Linked DNA regions of Homo sapiens: regions 1 and 2 are each linked to region 3. Evidence: fine-mapped expression QTL. A gene starts in region 3. Each other region holds a variant in brackets. All regions are shown on one strand. Distances are between the middles of the regions.

Region 1 (6,484 bases), 47 kb before region 3:
CTGCATATTTTCAAATAGCTAGAAGAGCAGACTTTGAATGTTCCCAGCACAAAGAAATGATCAATGTTTGAGGTGATGGATATGCTAATTACCTTGATTTGATCATTACGCCTTGTATACATGTATCAAACTATCACACTGTGCCCCATAAATATGTACAATTATTGTGTGTCAATTAAAAATAGTAATAAAAGCAAAAAAGAGTAGGGCCAAGGATTTAATTTATTCATCTTCAACTCTCCAGTGTCTGGCATAGTGCCAGGTACATATTACATACTCACAAACGTTCTTTGAAATGTCAGACTCCTAACCGTATCCCACAAAGCCCCTGCTCAATAGGGCCCAGCCTGTCTCTTCAACCTCCTCAGATGCCTTTCCCTTGTCACCACGGACCAGCCACACTTCCTCAAATGTGCCACGCTCATTCCCACCTCAGGGCCTTTGCCTATGCTCTCTCCCCTTGGAACATTCCTTCCCCAGTTCTCTGAATTGGAGGCAGCTTCTTAGCTGTTGGGTGTCAGCTCAAACGCCAACCCCTCCATGTGGAAATAACCTGTATCTTGAGCTGAGTGCTGGCTACATGGCATATGCCAGTGGCTTTCAACAGTGGCGATTTCGCCTCCCAGAAGATATATGGCAATGTCTGGGGACATTTTTGATGGTCACAACTGTGTGGGGAGGAATGTTACTGACATTTAGTGGGTAGAGGCCAGGTATGCTGCTAAACATCCTATAATACACAAGACGGGGCCGAGCGCGATGGCTCACGCCTGTAATCCCAGTACTTTGGGAGGCTGAGGTGGGCAGATCACGAGGTCAGGAGTTTGAGACCAGCCTGACCAATACAGTGAAACCCTGTCTCTACTAAAGATACAAAAATCAGCCAGGTATGGTGGTGTGTGCCTGTAATCCCAGCTACTCAGGAGGCTGAGGCAGGAGAACTGCTTGAACCTAAGAGGCGGAGGTTGCAGTGAGCCGAGATCATGCCAGGGCACTCCAGCCTGGGCGATAAAGCAATACTCCATCTCAAAAAAAAAAAAAAAAAAAAAAGACAAACAAGAAAGACAGTCCCCAGGACAAATGGCCCCAATGTCTGCAGTACAGAGGTTGAGAGTCTGACATACGCAAATTGAAAAACTCACCAAGTTGTACATTAAAGATTTGTGCATGGCCAGGTGCAGTGGTTCACGCCTGTAATCCCAACACTTTGGGAGGCTGATGAGGGCGGATCACAAGGTCAGGAGTTCGAGACCAGCCTGGCCAACATAGTGAAACCCCGTCTCTACTAAAAATACAAAAGTTAGCCGGGTATGGTGGCACAAGCCTCTTGTCTCAGCTACTCGGGAGGCTGAGGCAGGAGAGTCACTTGAACCCAGGAGGCGGAGGTTACAGTGAACCGAGATCATACCATTGCACTCCAGCCTGGGCGACAGAGCAAGACTCTGTCTCAAAAAAAAAAAAAAAAAAAAAAGAAAAAAAAAAAGAAAAGATTTGTGCACTTTACTATATGTAAAGTATACATCAAATTAAAGAAAAAATGTTACTCCCTCTATGAGGCCTTTGCTCACCACCTCCTCACTCTCTACTCTATTACTAATATTACTGTGCTTACGTCCTTCACTTTCATAGCACTTTTCACAATGTGATGTTATTTTGTGGATCTTTTCTGTCACTCCCACTGGAATGTTAGCCCCATGAAGTCAGGGAGGGACCTGTGTTGGCACCACTGTATTCCCAGTGGTGTGAATAATACCTGGCCCAGAGCAGGTGTTCAGTTAAGTATCTGCTGAATGAATGAGTGAATGACAGAAACAAGGCATGAATGAATGACAATTTATGTTTTGCCACCAAGCACTGTGACTGTCCAGAGACTGGAGCCCTCTTGCTCTGACTAGTGGGCTCAGTGCCCACAGGAGAGCTGTACAGAAGCCAAACCCCACTCAGAAGGGTGGATCATGGAAGGGAGTCAGAACAAGCCTGGTGGCGGCAGGCGCTTCATAATATCAGAGGAAGCTGCAGGAGAACCATGGCTAAAGAACCCATGCACTCCAGGGCTTTGGCCGTGACTTCTCCCCTGAGCAGCTTGAGGCGCACTGCCAAGGCTAAAGTTTGCCTCTGCCACTCTCTTAGGAGAGACACCTTCATAACCCGAGTCGGGTGCCTGGCGATCATGCAGGTCTGGCCTGTGATGTGGGTTCCTGGGTTGGGGTGGGGGTTCTTGTGTCTCCTCCTTGTTCCACCTGTCATCCCAGGCTGCCTGTCCCTGGTGTCTGAATCTTGCCTTCCCTACTGGCCTGAGAGGTTCCCTTAGAATGGAGAGCCTGCCTCCATCTTTGCACCGTGGCTCACGCTTGATGACTGGTGCTTGGTTGGCATTCAGGAAATCACTGGTGGTGATGATGATGATGATGACAGTGACGATGGTGATGATGACGAAACAATCATGAAGGAGCTGAGATGGTTGGAGCTGTTTAAATGTTAGAGAAAAGAGACATCTTGTCAGACCTGGGTGGAGAAATTAGTTCAGTTTAGAAAAGTGAACCCAGTGCAGAAGTGGTGACTGGGATAATCTGGCCTCTGCTTAGCCCAGTCCATCCCCTCATCTGTTATCCCCAACCAAAGCTCACTTTCCCTCGTGGACCATTTTCTCATGAACTCCTGTCCGAGCCATTTTGCTGTACCCTGCAGAACCCTGGTTTGGTCTGAAACAAATCCTTCCCCAACGTCCTCTGCCTTCTCACAGAGCTCCCAGCCTGTCTGGACTGAATATGATCCCTGTCTTCTATTCCCTACCTTCTCTCTCACTGCCCTGCCTTCTGCAGTGGAAGCCTTTAGTCTCCTACATTGTCTCCAGGTTGGAAAGGAATGCACTAGCAATAGTCCAGGCCAAGGCCATTGCTCTTCCTGACTCATGTACAAACTTCTTTCCACCCCTCCTCATCAGTCCCATACACTGATCAGCCCAGACTCTCTAAGGATTTCAACACCTGTTTTTAGTCTTCCTGCCTGATTCCTGCCATCAGGTAATTCCAACAAGCATGGCTCATTCAACATCATAGCACAGCAGTTTTCAAGTGTTAGGGAGCCTAGGAACCACTCAGGGAGCTTGTAAAAATACGGAATTCTGGTCCGTCCCCCAGAGATTCAAACTTAGTAGGTTTGGCTGGGGCCCAAGAGTGTGCATTTCGCATAGGTGGTTCTGAACTCTGCCTTGACCTCAGTTCCTGACTTCAATTCCAATGCCTTCGACATAATTCAGCAGCTTGCTCACATGGCCACACCCTAGATTCACCTGGAACTTCTCTGCCTCTGAGAACCTAAATTCCAATGTCCTTTTCCCTGATCCCCTCCCATCCCCAGTACACATGGACCTCCAGTTCCAGCTCCTCAGGCAGTTTGTTTTCTTCCAGCCCTTCAGCCCCTCTTGCACCTATATTTGAACTTAGGCTCAATCCCTTGAACTACTTACCACCTGTTAGCTTCCTGATCCCCTGACCCCCTTGACCTCCAGCCTTAACCTACCAACCTTCAGACCTACCTGAACCAACCTGACAGTCTCCTACCTCACGGGCAGGGCTGAAGAAAACTGCTGTGTCATATGACTCAGGGCTGCGATGGTTCAGGCCATCCCAAGTCCCTGATACCAGTGCTTGGCAGTTCC[G/A]TTTTGCTGAGGCCCCATCTCATCTGCAGTTGTTATTCCAAACCTCAAGCCCCAACGTCATTTCCTTTACTTTCAACAAATATCCTTCTTAGAGAAAACAATTTCTGTGACTACCTACCCCTCTACATATTTTGCAATTTTCCTCAGCCTAAGAGCAAATTCCAGCATCTCCCTGCCTTAAAAACTTCCTGGCCGGGCACAGTGGCTCACGCCTGTAATCCCAGCACTTTGGGAGGCCAAGGCAGGCGGATTGCCTGAGCTCAGGAGTTCGAAACCAGCCTGGGCAACAAGGTGAAACCCTGTCTCTACTAAAAATACAAAAAATTAGCTGGATATGGTGGCGGGTGCCTGTAATCCCAGCTACTTGGGAAGCTGAGGCAGGATAATCACTTGAACCTGGGAGGTGGAGGTTGCAGTGAGCTGAGATCGTGCCACTGCACTCCAGCCTGGGTGACAGAGTGAGACTCTGTCTCAAAAAAAAAAAAAAAAAAAGAAAGAAAGAAAAAAATCTTCCCTTGACCTTGTGCCATTTTCTAGACTCCATTCTGCCTTTATCTCAACACAATCTAGTTTCCTGAAAGGCTGTCTCCAAAGGTGTGGTAGATGGCATTTCAGTTTCCAGTTATTCATCTCTCACTGTAAACATACCGTTCACCCTGTGACTGTGCATCACTTCAATGGAGGCGAGGTATATTTTCCCACGCCACTGATGTTGCTGGTCTAAGGGAGATGAAAGGCACATGGAGCCACCTGGATCCCACTCACAGCTTGGAAGTCAACCCAGCCCAGCAGAGCCCAAGCTAGATCAGCTAAAGCTCAGCCTGCCCACAGATGCATGAGCAAGATACATGCTTATGATTGTAGGCTTCTGAGTTTTGAACTGGCTTCTTATGCAGCATTACTGCAATAATAGTTAACAGTGACAGAGGGAAACAGAATATTAATGATGCTGGAAAGACATGATGGATGAGTGACTAGCTATTTACAAAAGAGCAATTTAGACTCGTGCCTCACAGAATCCACCAAAATAAATTCTACCCGAATTAAAGGGTTAAGGATATAAAATTAAACCACAGAAAATTAGAAGAAAATGAAAGACATGTTCAATCTGGATAGCAGAGGATTTTCTAAAGCTAAAAATAACAAATGCGTCATTCTAATTTTCCTTAATAGGCGTATGTTATTCTTAAAGGCATTTATTATTCCTATTATTCCTTAAAGGCATACATTATTCAGAAAAAAGCAACAGAAGATCTAACAAGGGAAATAATTACTGTTTTAGTTACTTTAAAATTTAAATCCTTGGCCGGGCGCCATGGCTCATGCCTGGAATCCCAGCACTTTGGGAGGCCGAGGCGGGTGGAGGCCGAGGTGGGTGGATGACGAGGTCAAAGAGATTGAGACCATCCTGGCCAACATGGTGAAACCCCGTCTCTACTAAAAATACAAAAATTAGCTGGGCGTGGTGGCGCGTGCCTGTAGTCCCAGCTACTTGGGAGGCTGGGGCAGGAGAATAGCTTGAACCTGGGAGGCAGAGGTCACAGTGAGCTGAGATCACGCCACTGCACTCCAGCCTGGTGACACAGCAAGACTGTCTCAAAAAAGAAAGAAAGAAGAAAGAAAGAAAGAAAGAAAGAAAGGAAGGAAGGAAGGAAGGAAGGAAGGAGAGAGAGAGAGAGAAAGAAAGGAAGGAAGGAAGGAAGAAAGAAAGAAAGAAAGAAAAAGAAAGAAAGAAAGAAAGAAAGAAAAAGAAAGAAAGAAAGAAAACCTCAGGCGGGCATAGTGGCTCATGCCTGGCATCCCAGCACTTCGGGAGACTGAAGCAGGTGGATCACTTGAGGCCAGGAGTTCAAGGCCAGCCTGTCCAAAGTGGTGAAACCAAGTCTCTGCTAAAAATACAAAAATTAGCAGGGCATGGTGGCAGGCGTCTGTAATCCTAGCTACTTGGGCACTGAGGCACAAGAAATCGCTTGAACCCAGGAGGTGGAGGTTCCAGTAAGCCGAGATCGCCCCATTGCACTCCAGCCTGGGCGACAGAGTGAGACTCTCTCAAAAAGAAAAAAAAAAACGAACTTAAATATACTTGATCTTAGCCAAAAGGCCAAGGAGTGATTACAGACCTTAAATAAATGTGAAAACACAATGACCTCAATTAATAAATTAATAAATGGCTAATAAATATGAAAAAATGTGAAAACTCAAAAGAATCAAGAAAATCCAAGTATAGCCAGGCATGGTGGCTAACTTGCACCCAAAGTACAAGTAATCCCAGCACTTTGGGAGGCCAAGGTGGGAGGATCGCTTGAGCCCAGGAGTTCCAGACCAGCCTGGGCAACAGAGGGAGACCTCATCTCTACAAAAAATTTAAAAAATCAGCCAGGCTTGGTGGTACACGCCTGTGCTTCCAGCTGCTCAGGAGGCTGAGGTAGGAGGATCTCTTGGGCCTGGGAGGTAAAGGCTGCAGTAAACTGTGATCATGTCACTGCACTCCAGCCTGGGAGACAGAGACTCTGTCTCAAAAAAAAAAAAAAAAAAAAAGCCAGGGCGCGGTGGCTCACGCCTGTAATCCCAGCAATTTGGGAGGCAGAGGCAGGCAGATCACCTGAGGCTGGGAGTTTGAGACCAGCCTGACCAACATGGAGAAACCCTGTCTCTACTAAAAATACAAAAAATTAGCCGGGTGTGGTGGCACATGCCTGTAATCCCAGCAACTCAGGAGGCTGAGGTAGAAGAATCGCTTGAACCTGGGAGGCGGAGGTTGTGGTGAGCTGAGATTGCGCCACTGCACTCCAGCCTCAAGAGCGAAACTCCAGCAACAAGAGT
Region 2 (6,484 bases), 55 kb before region 3:
GGTCCGTGAACACCTAACTCCAGTACAAGCAAGAATGCGCACGGGAAGCTCGAAGAGGGAAGACAGTGCTGGGGGCGGTCTGGAGACAGAGGTTCATTTTGACTGAGGAGGCCGGGCAGGCTTCATGGAGAAAAGGGCACCTGAGCCAAGCTTTTCATTCATTTATTCATGCACGCATGCATTCATTCAGAAACTTTTTTTCTTTCACATCAGACGGATACCGTGCTGACATCATCACAAGGTTTGAGGGAGGTGCATCTTACCTATGTGTGTGAAAACCCAGTCATACTTAGGAATTACAAAAGGATCATTCAGAGGCATTTAGTAAGGGCCACCTAGGTGCCAGGCACTGTTCTGGAATCTGGGATACAGTCTTGAACAAAGTTTCTCCCCCTGTGTAGCCATATTCTGGTTGGGGGAGAAAAACAATCAACATTTAGTGTGTCCCATGGTGATGTGAACTAGGGTGAACATAAAGCCAGAGAGGGGACAGGGTGCAGGGGTGAGGGTGGTGCTATTTTTATGTGAGGTGGTCAGGGCAGGGCTCTCAAATAAGGCAAAATTTGAGCAGAGACCTGAAGGAAGTGAGGCAGCAAGCCATGTGGAGCCACAGAAAGGCCTGATGGTAGGGTTGTCTTGGTGTATTTGAGGCCTGGGATTACGACCGGCAGAAACAGAATTAGCCCAGACCTCTCAGCTAGGACTGAAGCACCGTGGAGAGGCCACCAGCTGTGGCTGAGACAGAGGAACAGGCTGAAGGGTGCTAAAAGATGTGGTAAGGATGGGCAGGTCACAGAGGGCCCTGAAGCCACTCTTCGAATGGACTTGGACTTCATGAGAGAGGTGGGAACTCGCCGGAGGAGTTTGAGCAGAGAAGTAATCCATTCCTGACTTAAGTAACAGTTTCCTTTTTTTTTTTTTTTTTCAGATGGAGTTTCACTCTTATCACCCAGGCTGGAGTGCAATAGCGCAATCTTGGCTCACTGCAACCTCTGCCTCCTGGGTTCAAGCGATTCTCCTGGCTGGCCCAGAGTGGTGGCAGTGGAGGCAGGGAGAAGTGTTCACATTCTGGGTACCTTTGAAGGTGAGCTTTGAAGATGCAACAGAATTTGACAGTAGAGATGTAGGGAGGAAGGAAGGCAGGACAGGTCAGACAGAAGTGCAGGAACAGCTCAGGCCTGGGGGAGATGAAACTGGGCAGGTCTGTAGGGGGTGTGGGAAGGCTGCAAAGGCCTGGGCGAGGGGCGTGGCTCCATACTGTCGGCAATGTGGCTTGCAGAAGGGGACACTTGATCAGAGCCACACTTTGAAGACGAACCAGGCAGCAGGGGGAAGCTGTGTCAGTGGGGAGAGCAGAGAGCAGCAGGGAGGCATGAGGCTGCTGTGGGTGCTCTGGCCACAGTTCTCCACGGTCCCACAGGCCCCAGAAAGGAAAAGGATCCTGCTCCCCTCCTGCCAGGCTGCGACATGGATAGCCCAGCTCACTGCATCTACCTGGCCTCATTCGGGGGGCTGGGAGGATTCACTCAAGGACCCTTCCATCAGGCTTCTGCCACTCTTGAAATCAAGCCAGTGGGACGCATTGGCCCCAGATAACGGCTTTCCTCTTGCAGAAGTAGAGCAAGCTAGGTCCGTCCCAGGGGGGGTTGCCAGGGTCAGGAAGGACCTTCTATGCCTAGGAATGGAGAGGGGGCTTGGTCAGGGAGGGAAGGCTGTCACTAGGACTGGCTTTCTCCACAGGCCAGCTGCTACCCACCTCCTCGGCTCTGCAAGACACTCCCAGACCTGCCTGTGTCCTATTCGTCTCCCCTCTGCAGACAGAGGCTCTCCTCAAGACTTTGTTCTGCAAAACCCCCACCACTACCCCTAAGAAGGCAAAAGGGCAACTGAGGCATGAAGCAGGGGGCACGCACGGGGGAGTCCCACATTCCTGATCTGACTCCCCAGGCATATTGTGCTGCTTCTGGGGAGCTTGCCACGGCCTGCCTCCTCCCGGGTTTGGGCCCTTGTTTATATCTGTTCACCTGTGCTTTCCCCTTCCCTGCAGAACAGCGATCAGAACCTGTTCATATCTGGGACCCCACAGTCCTTACCTAGGGCAGCTAGGTGTTCCCTGGCTGAATGAAGGGATGTGGAGTTTCCTGCTGGGTGGTGGGTAGGACAGGCTTGGAAGACAGGGGTGGAATTAAGTAAGGAAGCTCCAGAAGGACACAGGGCCATAGATACTCTCCCACCCAACTCCAGGCCACATCAGGAACACCTGCTAACATTTCCTGAACACTCTTTTTGAGCCAGGCCCTGTGTATTTTAGATGCGGTTTCATTTGATCTTCACAGGAGCCCTATGAGGTAGGCATCCCCAACCCCACTTTATAGATGCAAACAACTAAGGCACAGAGAAGTTATTTGTTCAAGGTCACATGGCTACTAAGCAACAAAACTAGGATGCAAAAGCAGATTTGTTCGACCCCACATGCTGTGTGCTTTGCTACAATCCACACTGTCTCCCAGGCCCCACAGAGCCCCAAATGCATGTGTCTCACCAGTTTCACCTGTGGCCACTGTGCTCAGCTATCCTCATCCTAAGACAATTGTAGTTATGGTTAAGGAAAGCCTTTTATTAAATTGCCAAACACCAGGGATGATGATTACTAATGATAACATGGTCAACAGCTCTCCTCCCGGTGAGCCTGGTGTTTCCATCATTGCCTTTCCACCCCCAGTAGAATCCTCTATTTGCGATCCTCCCAGCCACACCTTCAGGTTGGTAGTGCATGTGCCCTCCCCCTCCCCATCATGTCCTGTCCCATTCCGTTCCCCCTCCCTCCCCATCCTTCCTGGAGGCACCCCTAGCACCAACACCTGCCCATTTCCCCCCTACAGTTTCCTGCAAATATCTCCTTTCCCTCCCAGCAGCCAGCAGCATCTCCCCCTGGGGACTGGACTGATTGTTTCCCAGACTATGAGGAGCAGGGTCTGGAATTCTGACTCCAGGCGCACCCTTCTCTCTGCAAATTTGAG[G/A]AGTGGATTCCAAAGCAACTTTGAAATCCAGACACAGGAAAGCCTGTAGAAATACTGCATTTTGAAGAAGCTCTCCAATGATTAGAGTTTTGGAGATTTGTAAAATCCCACGTCTCAAGTTCCAGGCATACCCACACCCTCAAGATTCTGAGATAGTGATCCTGGCATTCTGATCTCAGGAATTCTGATTCCAGTTCCTTATGGAAACTTCTATTTTCCACTTCCTCAGGCCATTTGTATGACCTCAAACTTACTAATTTTGAAAGCTAGAAGTAGATTTAAAAATCTTTCCCCAGATAAGGCTGTAAAATTCCCAGAAATTTTGTGGGGAGAAAATGTTTTCATTAAAAATCCCAAATATGGGCTGGGCGCAATGGCTCCCACCTGTAATCCCAGCACTTTGGGAGGCCAAGGTGGGCAGATCATGAGGTCAGGAGTTGAAGACCAGCCTGACCAACATGATGAAACCCCATCTCTACTGAAAATACAAAAATTAGCTGGGTATGGTAGCAGGTGCCTGTAGTCGCAGCTACTCAGGAGGCTGAGGCAGGAGAATTGCTTGAACCCGGGAGGCGGAGGTTGCAGTGAGCTGAGATTGTGCCACTGCACCACTCCAGCCTAGGGAACAGAGCAAGAGCCCGTCTCAAAAAAAAAAAAAAAAAAAAAAAAGGCCGGGTGCGGTGGCTCATGCCTGTAATCCCAGCACTTTGGGAGGCTGAGGTGGGCAGATCATGAGGTCAGGAGTTTGCAACCAGCCTGACCAACACGGTGAAACCCTGTTTCACCATGCTGAGATCATGCCATTGCATTCCAGCCTGGGTGACAGAGCGAGACTCCGTCTCAAAAAAAAAAAAAAAAAAAAAAAAAAAAGAAAATTATTTAGATACCTTCATGTTTGGGATTTTTTTTTCTTTTTCTTTTTTTTGTTTTTTGAGACGGAGTCTCACTCTGTCGCCCAGGCTGGAGTGCAATGGCTGCGATCTCGGCTTACTGCAACCTCCCTCTCCCGGCTTCAAGCAATTTTCCTGCCTCAGCCTCCTGAGTAGCTGGGATTACAGGCGCTTACCACCGTGCCCAGCTAATTTTTGTATTTTTAGTAGAGATGGCGTTTCACCATGTTGGCCAGGCTGGTCTCGAATTCCTGACCTCAGGAGAGCCACCTGCCTCAGCCTCCCAAAGTGCTGGGATTACAGGCGTGAGCCACCGCACCTGGCCTAAATATTTTTCAATCTCATTATTTTAATGCAACGTGCAGAGCAATGGTAACTTACTTGGCACATTATCTAAACTGCGACCAAGGTTTAGGATATTAGAGATGTGAATGCCCCAAAAGGCACAAACACAAGATCCCCACCCCACCCTCCAGCACCATGTTTTTCTAGTTATCCTGCCTTTATATCTGCATTTCTTAGACTGTGAGTGGAATCCTGCGCCTGAAGCTTCTGGGCGTGTGGGGTGGTCTGGGGAGGAGAGGGTGAATTGCACAATGTCTGCTCGGAAGCTCGGGAAATTCCCAGGCTTAGGCTCTCCCCACAACCTGGCCTGTGGCCAGGGCTCTCACAATTCCCATCCCCAACATTACTGTCCCTAAACTGGGGCTTGAGGTCCTGACCCATGGCCAGGCTGGTAGTAGGAAGGGGACAGGGGGCCTCGGAGGCCTGTCTTCTTCCCTGCCTCTCAGTGTCCCTGGGGCTGAACAGTGCTTGCTAGGCACCACCCTCCCCTGGGGCCAGGAAGGAAGGGGTAGAGGGAGGCAGGAGGGCAGAGTGAGCGGGGGAGGGTCGACGGAGACAAATCACTGGAAAAGTGGGCAGAGTCAGTTGGGTCAGATTTCACAGCCTGGGGCTTCCACACGGGCCAGGCTTTGGTTAGAAGGAAAGGGACATACTGGAATCCAACAGGGTTGGGACTCTTGCTTGGGACAGAAGAACCTAACTTGACTGGTGAGGAGTTGGATGCTGGGGAGTGGGACAAGGACATACGAAAGGAGTTGGCGGTTTTAAATGTCAGACGGTGGGAGGCATTCCTTCTCTCCGGCACTTGCCATCGGAGCCCGGGCATCTGCTGACCTCACCCCCGGACAGGGACGGTCTTCCCAGCCCTGGCTCCTGCACTATCCCCCTGTCCAGCTTCCTGGTCTCCAGCCCATTCTGTGGCACTTTGCTCCAGATGTCCTCTCACGCCCTCCTTCCGTGGCCACCCTGGCCCGCCTCTCCGATCCTCCTTCCCCAGCTTATCCCAATTGTCCAGCCCCCCAAATCCCTCAGGCCCCCCAACTCAGTGGCTTCTCCAGTCCGTCTCCTCGATCCCTCTTCCCTTAGACCAAGCCCCTTCCTAACCGCCACGCCCACCCCCAGCTCCAGCCCCCGCCTCCCAGTCCCCTCTCCCAGCGCGCCCGCCTCCCGAGCCCGCACGCTTCGGAGCCCGGGCACTAACCCGATTCGGAAGAGCAGCCGCTGGCTGTGCGCCATGAGCAGACCGCGGAGGCCCCGCCGCGCTCGGCAGCCGCGGGGGCTCACAAGTAGGACGAGGACAAGGACGAGGAGGAGCCAGCAGCCGGCGACCCACTGCCACGCCGCGGGCCAGCCCTGCCAAGCCATGCTGGGGGCAGGCACGCGCCGGCCGGGCGGGGCTCGGCGTTGCTAGGCAACGGCCCGGCCCCGGCCCCCCGCGGGGAACCTGCCTGCCGGCTCTGGACGTGGGGGCGTTGTGGCCCCGCCCCGCCCATTGACCTCTCCTTTGGACCCGCCCCCTCACCACCTCCAGCCGGGCAAGCACCCCGAAGGCCACCCGGCTTGGGGGGCGGCCTGGCTCCGCCCGGCTGGCGGCCAGGAGGCGGGGCCACAGCGGGCCGCGAGCCTGCGCTGATCGGGGTCCACAGTCGCCTGAGCCCTGGGAAGGGGCAGGAGCTCGCAGTTCGCCCCGCCCGCCTCCCCGTCCAGGGCACTGCTACACTTTCTCAACTGGCAGAAACCTGAGAGATCATCGGGGTCAGCTGCCATTCATGGATTTATTCATTCGCCGAATTACTTTTCTAGCTCCTCCTATGTACTTGGCACTCTGCCAGGCTCTGAGGAGGATGCAAGGGTCAAAGGCACACTGTCTGCATTCCTGGAGCCCACAGTCCGGAATCTAGTGAGGCGACGAACCAAATAAGCGAGCAAACAAAATTATATCTGTTTATGCATACACATACATATGCGCGTGATAAATTGCGAAAGGAAGTCAAGGAGGGGGCAATGATATGGAGCACAGAGAGGGCCAACTTAGATGGGGGAGGGCCTCCCCAGCGGACGACATAAGTCCTGCCCTGAAGGATAGGAAGAGGCCACACAAGCTCTGGAGGAGCAACATGACCTAGGATATGTAGCCATGGGTGGCACAGAGGGGCCTAGGGCTGGGGCATTCCCACTCCCAAACCCAGGGCGATTTCCACATCACCGTTCCCAGCTCCCTCACTGCTG
Region 3 (6,484 bases):
AGTAACTGGGCATGGTGGCACTCACCTGGGGTCCCAGCTACTCAGGAGGCTGAGGTAGGAGGATCACTTGAGCCCAGGAGGTGGAGGTTGCAGTGAGCTGACGATCACAACACTGCACTCCAGCCTGGGTAACAGAGCGAGACTCCGTCTCAAAAAACAAAAAACAAAAAACAAAACAAATGAGGAAACTGAGGCCCAGAGTCGAGTCATTTGGACTCAGTAAAGAGCAGTGCTTTTTTTTGCCTCCACACCCTGAATACCTTCTTTGATTCTCTTTATTGTTTCAAGGCTGAGCGGGACCCCACCCTCCTGGCCGGCAGCTCTGAGGGCTTGGTCCCGAGGGCCCGGGGCCTAGGCTGGTTGCACTTAAGTCTCTGGGTTTGCCCCACCATCCAGCTGGGAACACTGAGCTCTGTGAGAGGGAGCACACATGAGTAACCAGCCCCACCCTCTGCCCCTCCCATCCCAAGGGACTCACAAACCCAGACCTGGTTCCTTTCTACTAAACACTCAATAACTTTATTTGCCTTTGGCTGGCTCCTTGGTGTGGGGCAGGGTAGGGTTTGGCAACAGCCTGGGCTTCATGCGCCCTCTGGTGGACCTCAGAGGCACGAACTGGAATCTGGGCCAAACCTGAGGACTTAACAGTCAATAGCCTAGGAGGGTCGCAGCGCTCCTCAGGTCTGCACCCCAGACCCAACATCAGGGGACGGGGCACTCTGGGAGGAAGCCCTGAACCTCTGGCTCTCATACTCGCCCGTGTTGGACAACCGCATGTTCTGCCGAGCCTTCATCTGCTTCACACGGTCCTTGTCCACTTCCCGCTTGGTGAGGATGAAGAGGAGGATACCACAAGGGAAGCCGATGGCCCTACGGGTGGGGAGATGTGCACGGGGTTTGGGGAGGGGCCAAGCCTGAGCCAGAGGAGCTGGGGGGAGTCATTCTAGCTTCATCAGTTGCATGAATGCTGCAATACCTCTTATAGTCTATTCATCCTCTGTGCTGGCTGCTGGAGGGACCCACACAAATCAGATCCTGTCACTTCCCTGCTTAAAACCCCGTAACTCCATCACTTCCTGGCCAAGTCCAAACATGGCACAAAAGGCCCAGTGTGGCTGGGTCTCTGCCTGCCTCTTTCCTCCTCCCGCCTAGAGCCTGATCCTCAGCACGAGCCCTGCATTCCTGCAACAGCACCTGTGCAGGATTTTCCAGGCAGCCCTGACGCTTTCCCTCTCTGAGACTTGGCCAAGGTACCCTCCCAGTTTTCCCCTCTTAAGCTAAGTAACCACTGCTTGGGAGGCACTTTGGTATGGGGGAAAGAGCATGGAGTCACAGACTAGGTGAGAATCCTAGCTCAGTCTCAGTTCCTTCCTCTGTGAAATGGGGATGTAATACTTATCTCAAACACTAAAACATTACATGGCAAAGTACTGGCACACCTCACATGCAGAAAAAAATGTTGATTTCTTCCTCCTTTCTCTTTAATATTGGTCAATAATATGTATTAAGGTCAGAGTCAGAGCCCAATCACAATGTTCATAACGCCTTCTGAGTACTACTATACAACTAGTACAAGCTCACATGATCTCAACGAACTACTTACTTAAACTTGGGTCTCACTCCAAGCTCCCAAAAGGGAGGATGAGGCCAGGGACCCAAGTCTGAATCAGATCAACTCAGCTTACTCCACAGTAAACCCACTGTCTTCTCAATTCCACATACTTTCCCACCTCCACTGCCCCACCCCTCTGAGATTCCAATCGAACCCAACAATTCTGTTCCCACAACTTTGGATTCAGCTCGCCACCTGAAACTTGGAGAAGTTTCTAAGTCCTGCCCTCCCCTACAAGCCACGCCCCGTTGGTGGGCAAAGGGGTGGTTAAAACTCACCAGGCCAGTCCCACAGCTTTCATGGGGTTCTTGCCCCTCTTTCTGGGAATGTATTCCAGCTCCGGGGATAGGGGTTCAGGTTCCTCCTTGCCCTCTGGGGAGCTGTGGCTTTGCAGGGCCCGGGTCCTGTTATGAGAAGCCTTGTTAGCTGTGGCTCCTGCGAGAATCCCTGTGGATGGAGGTAAGGAAGGTCAGTAAGAAGAGATGAGAAGAAAGCAAGCGGGGAGGTGGGGGGCAGTAAGGGCTTGGGAGGAGCGGCTGAGATCTGGGGAAGGGGAGTGACTGCAGTCTGAAGTAAGAAGTGCCAAGGAGAATCCAAAGGGAAATGGGAAAATCGCCACCGAGGTGGCACCTTTGGAAGCCACTTCCACGTCACTGCGGGCTCATCACCCTGGTGCCAGGACGAAAAGCTTCGCTGTTCTTCCTCAGACGACAGCATGGGAAGGACTGCAGTGGGACTCACATAAGACGTATGAAGGAAATCCGGGAAAAGGTTTTGAAACTGCAAATGTTAGCACTGGAAGGGACCTTAAAGATAGTCTACTCCATCCCTTGCACTGTACGGAAGAGGAAACTGAAGCCCTGAGAGAAAAACTGCTTTGCCCAAGGTCAAACTGCTAATTATCCGGGGCTGGAACTCAAACCTCCAGAAGCCCGGGGCTCTTTCCTCTGCACTGCGGTGAGTGTGAAACACCTGGAGCGCGGGAGTCCAACAGGCTTCCTAGGAGCTCCCTCTTGCAGCAAGACCCCGGAGGTGTCGAGCAACCCGAAGGCGGGGGGATGCACTGGGTGACCTCTAAAGAGCATCTCTGCACCCCCAGACTCTAAGATCTTGCAGAAAAGTGTGGGGAGGAACCAAGAGCCCTGACCTCCTGCTATCGTCGGGCTGGACGTGAAAGAAAAGGGATCTTCTGCAGTCCTGCCCTCCCCGGGGTCCCTCTCCTTACCCCGGAGGACGCGGGCATTTCTCGCCCCCCGGCCCTTCAGCGCCGTAGCAGCTACCACCGCCGCCATGTTCAGATCCCACCCCCGCTTCACCGCGCTCCCCGCCGGGAATTGTAGTTTGCGTAAGGGGCCTCCCCCGCTCCTTCCGTCCTGCCTACAGACCAGAAACTACATCTCCCAGAAGCCCGCAGAGCGGACCCAGGAGAACTACTCTTCCCAGGAGACCCCGGAGGCGCGCGCGCTCGCTTGTTTCCCTCCAGTTGGGGGCGGAGTCAGGTGGGGCGGAGTTTGGGTTCTCTCCGCCACGCCCCGGCCCCATCTTCCAATGCCGCTCTGTGATTGGTGAGGCGGCCAGCCAACCTTCGTAGCTATTGGCCGAACGGCCGTCGCTCTTCCTGCTGGGGAGTCGCCTACGCCTACTTCCTGCCGGGAGGAGGGGCTCGAGTTCCGCGTCGTCGCGCAGAGCTGACTCTGGGAGGCGTTTGGGCCCAGAGAAGTGGATCCGCCGCTTGCGCCGCATGGAGTCCGAATCGGAAAGCGGGGCTGCTGCTGACACCCCCCCACTGGAGACCCTAAGCTTCCATGGTGATGAAGAGATTATCGAGGTGGTAGAACTTGATCCCGGTCCGCCGGACCCAGGTGAGAACTGCCGCTCCTCAGGCCATGGGACAGGAGACGCTCACCCCTGGCCTCTGACTCCTGCTTTTCCCCGCTCCCCTCCACACCCGACTGGTCATTCCTACCGATATCCCTCTTCCCCTCCTCCCCCACTCCCACCCTCACACTTAGTTCTCAGGCCTGGCTGGGGTGGGGGTTCCCTGACGCCTCCTCTGGCCCTTCCCCTCACACACCCCCTTCCCATCATCCCCTTGGCCCTCCCTTACCGCACGGTCTCTGGCCAGCCGTGGCCTCCCGTCCTGTGTCCCGCGCGCCCCCGCGGACCCCGGTGTGTCTGACTCCACCTTCCCTTCTCGCCACATGACCCGCCCCAGCCTCAGGCCTCCTCATGCTTCTCTCCGTACCTCTTACCGCCTCCCGAGCCCCATCTTCTAACCCTCTCCCCAAAGCAGATGACCTGGCCCAGGAGATGGAAGATGTGGACTTTGAGGAAGAAGAGGAGGAAGAGGGCAACGAAGAGGGCTGGGTTCTAGAACCCCAGGAAGGGGTGGTCGGCAGCATGGAGGGCCCCGACGATAGCGAGGTCACCTTTGCATTGCACTCAGGTAGGTCTTTGAGGCGATCCACCTCAAATCAGTTTAGGTGGGCGTGTAAGCATTAAACATCAGCCATGGACAGAACGTTATGGGGGACACAGAGATGGGCAAGATGCTGGCCTTGCGCTGGAGGAGCCCACAGGTGGGAAAGTGTGGCAGAATGGATGATTGCTTGGCTTCTGGCATCAGTCGAGACACCCTCTACTTTGCCAGTTAACCTTGATTAACCTCTTAGTTTTCTTTTAAAAAGTTATCTTTGGCCGGGCGTGGTGGCTCACTCCTGAAATCCCAGCACTTTAGGAGGCTGAGGCAGGTGGATCACTTGAGGTCAGGAGTTCGAGACCAGCCTGGCCAACATGGCAAAACCCAGTCTCTACTAAAAATACAAAAATTTGGCTGGGCATGGTGGCTCACGCCTGTAATCCCAGCACTTTAGGAGGCCCAGGCAGGCGGATCACAAGGTCGGGAGTTCCAGACCAGCCTGGCCAATATGGTGAAACCCCGTCTCTACTAAAAATACAAAAATTAGCTGGGCGTGGTAGCGGGCGCCTGTAGTCCCAGCTCCTCGGGAGGTTGAGGCAGGAGAATTGCTTGAACCCGGGAGGCGGAGGTTGCAGTGGACCAAGACTGCGCCATTGCACTCCAGCCTGGGCAACAGAATGAGAGTCTGTCTCCAAAAAAAAAAAAAAAAAAAAAGTTATCTTTGATAAAAGTTAATAAAAGTAGTGAGTATAAAATTAGAGATAATTGGCCAGGTGCGGTGGCTCATGCCTGTAATCACAGCACTTTGGAAGGCCAAGGCGGGTGGATCACCTGAGGTCGGGAGTTCAAGACCAGCCTGGCCGACATGGTGAAACCTCATCTCTACTAAAAATAAAAAAAAAATTAGCTGGGTGTGGTGGCATGTGCCTGTAATCCCAGCTACTCCGGAGGCTGAGGAAGGAGAATCACTTGAACCTGGGAGGCAGAGGTTGCATTGAGCTGAGATTGTGCCACTGCGCTTCGGCCTGGGCGACAGAGCAAGATTCCATCTCAAAAAAATAAAATAAAATGAGAGATAATTATATCTTTTTGAGCATATTTTATATAACTTTCTCAAGTGCTAGTTCTTAGTAAGAAACTGTTGCCAGGCACGGTGGCTCATGCCTGTAATCCCAGCACTTTGGGAGGCCGAGGCGGGTGGATCAGAAGGTTAGGAGTTCGAGACCAGCCTGACCAACATGATGAAACCCCATCTCTACTAAAAATACAAAAATTAGCTGGTTGTGGTGGCGGGCGCCTGTAATCCCAGCTACTCAGGGGGCTGAGGCAGGAGAATTGCTTGAACCTGGGAGGTGGAGGTTGCAGTGAGCTGAGATTGTGCCACTGCACTCCAGCCTGGGCGACAGAGCAAGACTCTGTCTCAAAAAACAAAAAACAAAAAACAAAAAACCCTTAACGTGATGCTCTCCTCGCTCTGTACCCAACCCCGGTGGCATCCCATGCTGACAACTGTAAGCCCTGCACCTGTCCCCACCTCTTGTCCATGGCATTGGTGTTGGGTGGTGACGGGAGTCACACAGTGAGGGGATCTACTCTGGCAAATAGGGAGCTTGGCAAATATGGGAAGGATCTAACAACCCAATTCTTGAAACTTAGAAGAACTTGGATGTACCTGTGTTTTCCAGGAGGAAAGACACGCTTTGGGTGAAAGGGGGTGGGTTTCCTGAAGATTGTGAAGGACAGAGCCCTAGGTGGGAGCTCTGTCCCCTTACCCATGGAATATCTCTTGGGACAGCATCTGTGTTTTGTGTGAGCCTGGACCCCAAGACCAATACCTTGGCAGTGACCGGGGGTGAAGATGACAAAGCCTTCGTATGGCGGCTCAGCGATGGGGAGCTGCTCTTTGAGTGTGCAGGTGAGGGGGCTGGGGTAGAGGCCTGGGAGAGGTCATATTCTTTTGGGAGATCTTAGGAGGCTGACCTGCAGAGGTTGTGCATCCAACAGCCACTTAGTGACATCTCTTTTGTGCCAGCTCTGTGCTGGGCCCCAGGGACACGGGGCGAATACTAGTGTGTTTTGGGCACAGAGGCAGGAGGCACTAATTGGCCAAGGGAATCCAGGAAAGGCCAGAGAAGGCCACATTGGTATAGGAGCAGGCGGGCAGAGGTGTAGAGTGGACAGAAGGGGGAAGGCATAGGAGGCTGGGACTTGGTCTGGTTGAGTGAGGGCCAGCAGTGTCTCCCAGCAGACATGGGAGTATTGGTTCCTAGAGTGGTGGTGAGTTCCAGCACCTGTTCTGCTCAGTCCCGCCCCTCTTTTTTTCCTAGCTGGTCCTTTCAGTGGGCCAGATACCAGAATCACATGCCCCCAGCACCAGGTACCCTATTTTTTTCCTCTGTTTTCTGCCCACTTTTCTTTGAAGGCCATAAAGACTCTGTGACTTGTGCTGGTTT

Which allele goes with the higher level. Alleles are on the strand shown, and positions count from the first base shown. SD is a standard deviation of normalised expression in the study named. Not every link is listed here.
As copies of G replace A in region 2, the expression in lung of the gene that starts at base 2,921 in region 3 goes down (small effect, 0.27 SD a copy in GTEx).

The links.
Region 1: its variant is fine-mapped to the expression of PNKD in whole blood (TOPMed, PIP above 0.99).
Region 2: its variant is fine-mapped to the expression of PNKD in lung (TOPMed, PIP above 0.99).

Annotation. Positions count from the first base shown.
Region 1 is chr2:218,313,938-218,320,421 of GRCh38, reverse strand. The region is part of intron 2 of PNKD (PNKD metallo-beta-lactamase domain containing); the gene reads right to left. The region is part of intron 1 of LOC105373881 (a long non-coding RNA gene); the gene reads left to right. It overlaps LOC105373880 (a long non-coding RNA gene), which reads right to left and starts at 3,672. Exons shown (of 2, transcript XR_923909.3): 1 at 3,539-3,672; 2 at 205-2,467. The variant G/A (reference allele first, on the strand shown) is at 3,662.
Region 2 is chr2:218,322,404-218,328,887 of GRCh38, reverse strand. The region is part of intron 2 of PNKD (PNKD metallo-beta-lactamase domain containing); the gene reads right to left. It overlaps CATIP-AS2 (CATIP antisense RNA 2), which reads left to right. Exons shown (of 4, transcript NR_125777.1): 3 at 929-1,084; 4 at 1,741-2,647. It overlaps LOC124906179 (small nucleolar RNA U13), which reads right to left and starts at 308; the gene lies at 208-308. RefSeq lists enhancers at 1,635-2,379, 5,415-6,010 and a silencer at 5,493-6,012. The variant G/A (reference allele first, on the strand shown) is at 3,021.
Region 3 is chr2:218,266,956-218,273,439 of GRCh38, reverse strand. PNKD (PNKD metallo-beta-lactamase domain containing) reads right to left here and starts at 2,921. Exons shown (of 10, transcript NM_015488.5): 1 at 2,838-2,921; 2 at 1,891-2,059. The coding sequence starts at 2,904. AAMP (angio associated migratory cell protein) reads left to right here and starts at 3,303. Exons shown (of 11, transcript NM_001087.5): 1 at 3,303-3,474; 2 at 3,906-4,058; 3 at 5,827-5,946; 4 at 6,454-6,484. The coding sequence starts at 3,354. RefSeq lists enhancers at 2,627-2,676, 2,707-3,086, 3,237-3,556, 4,125-5,010.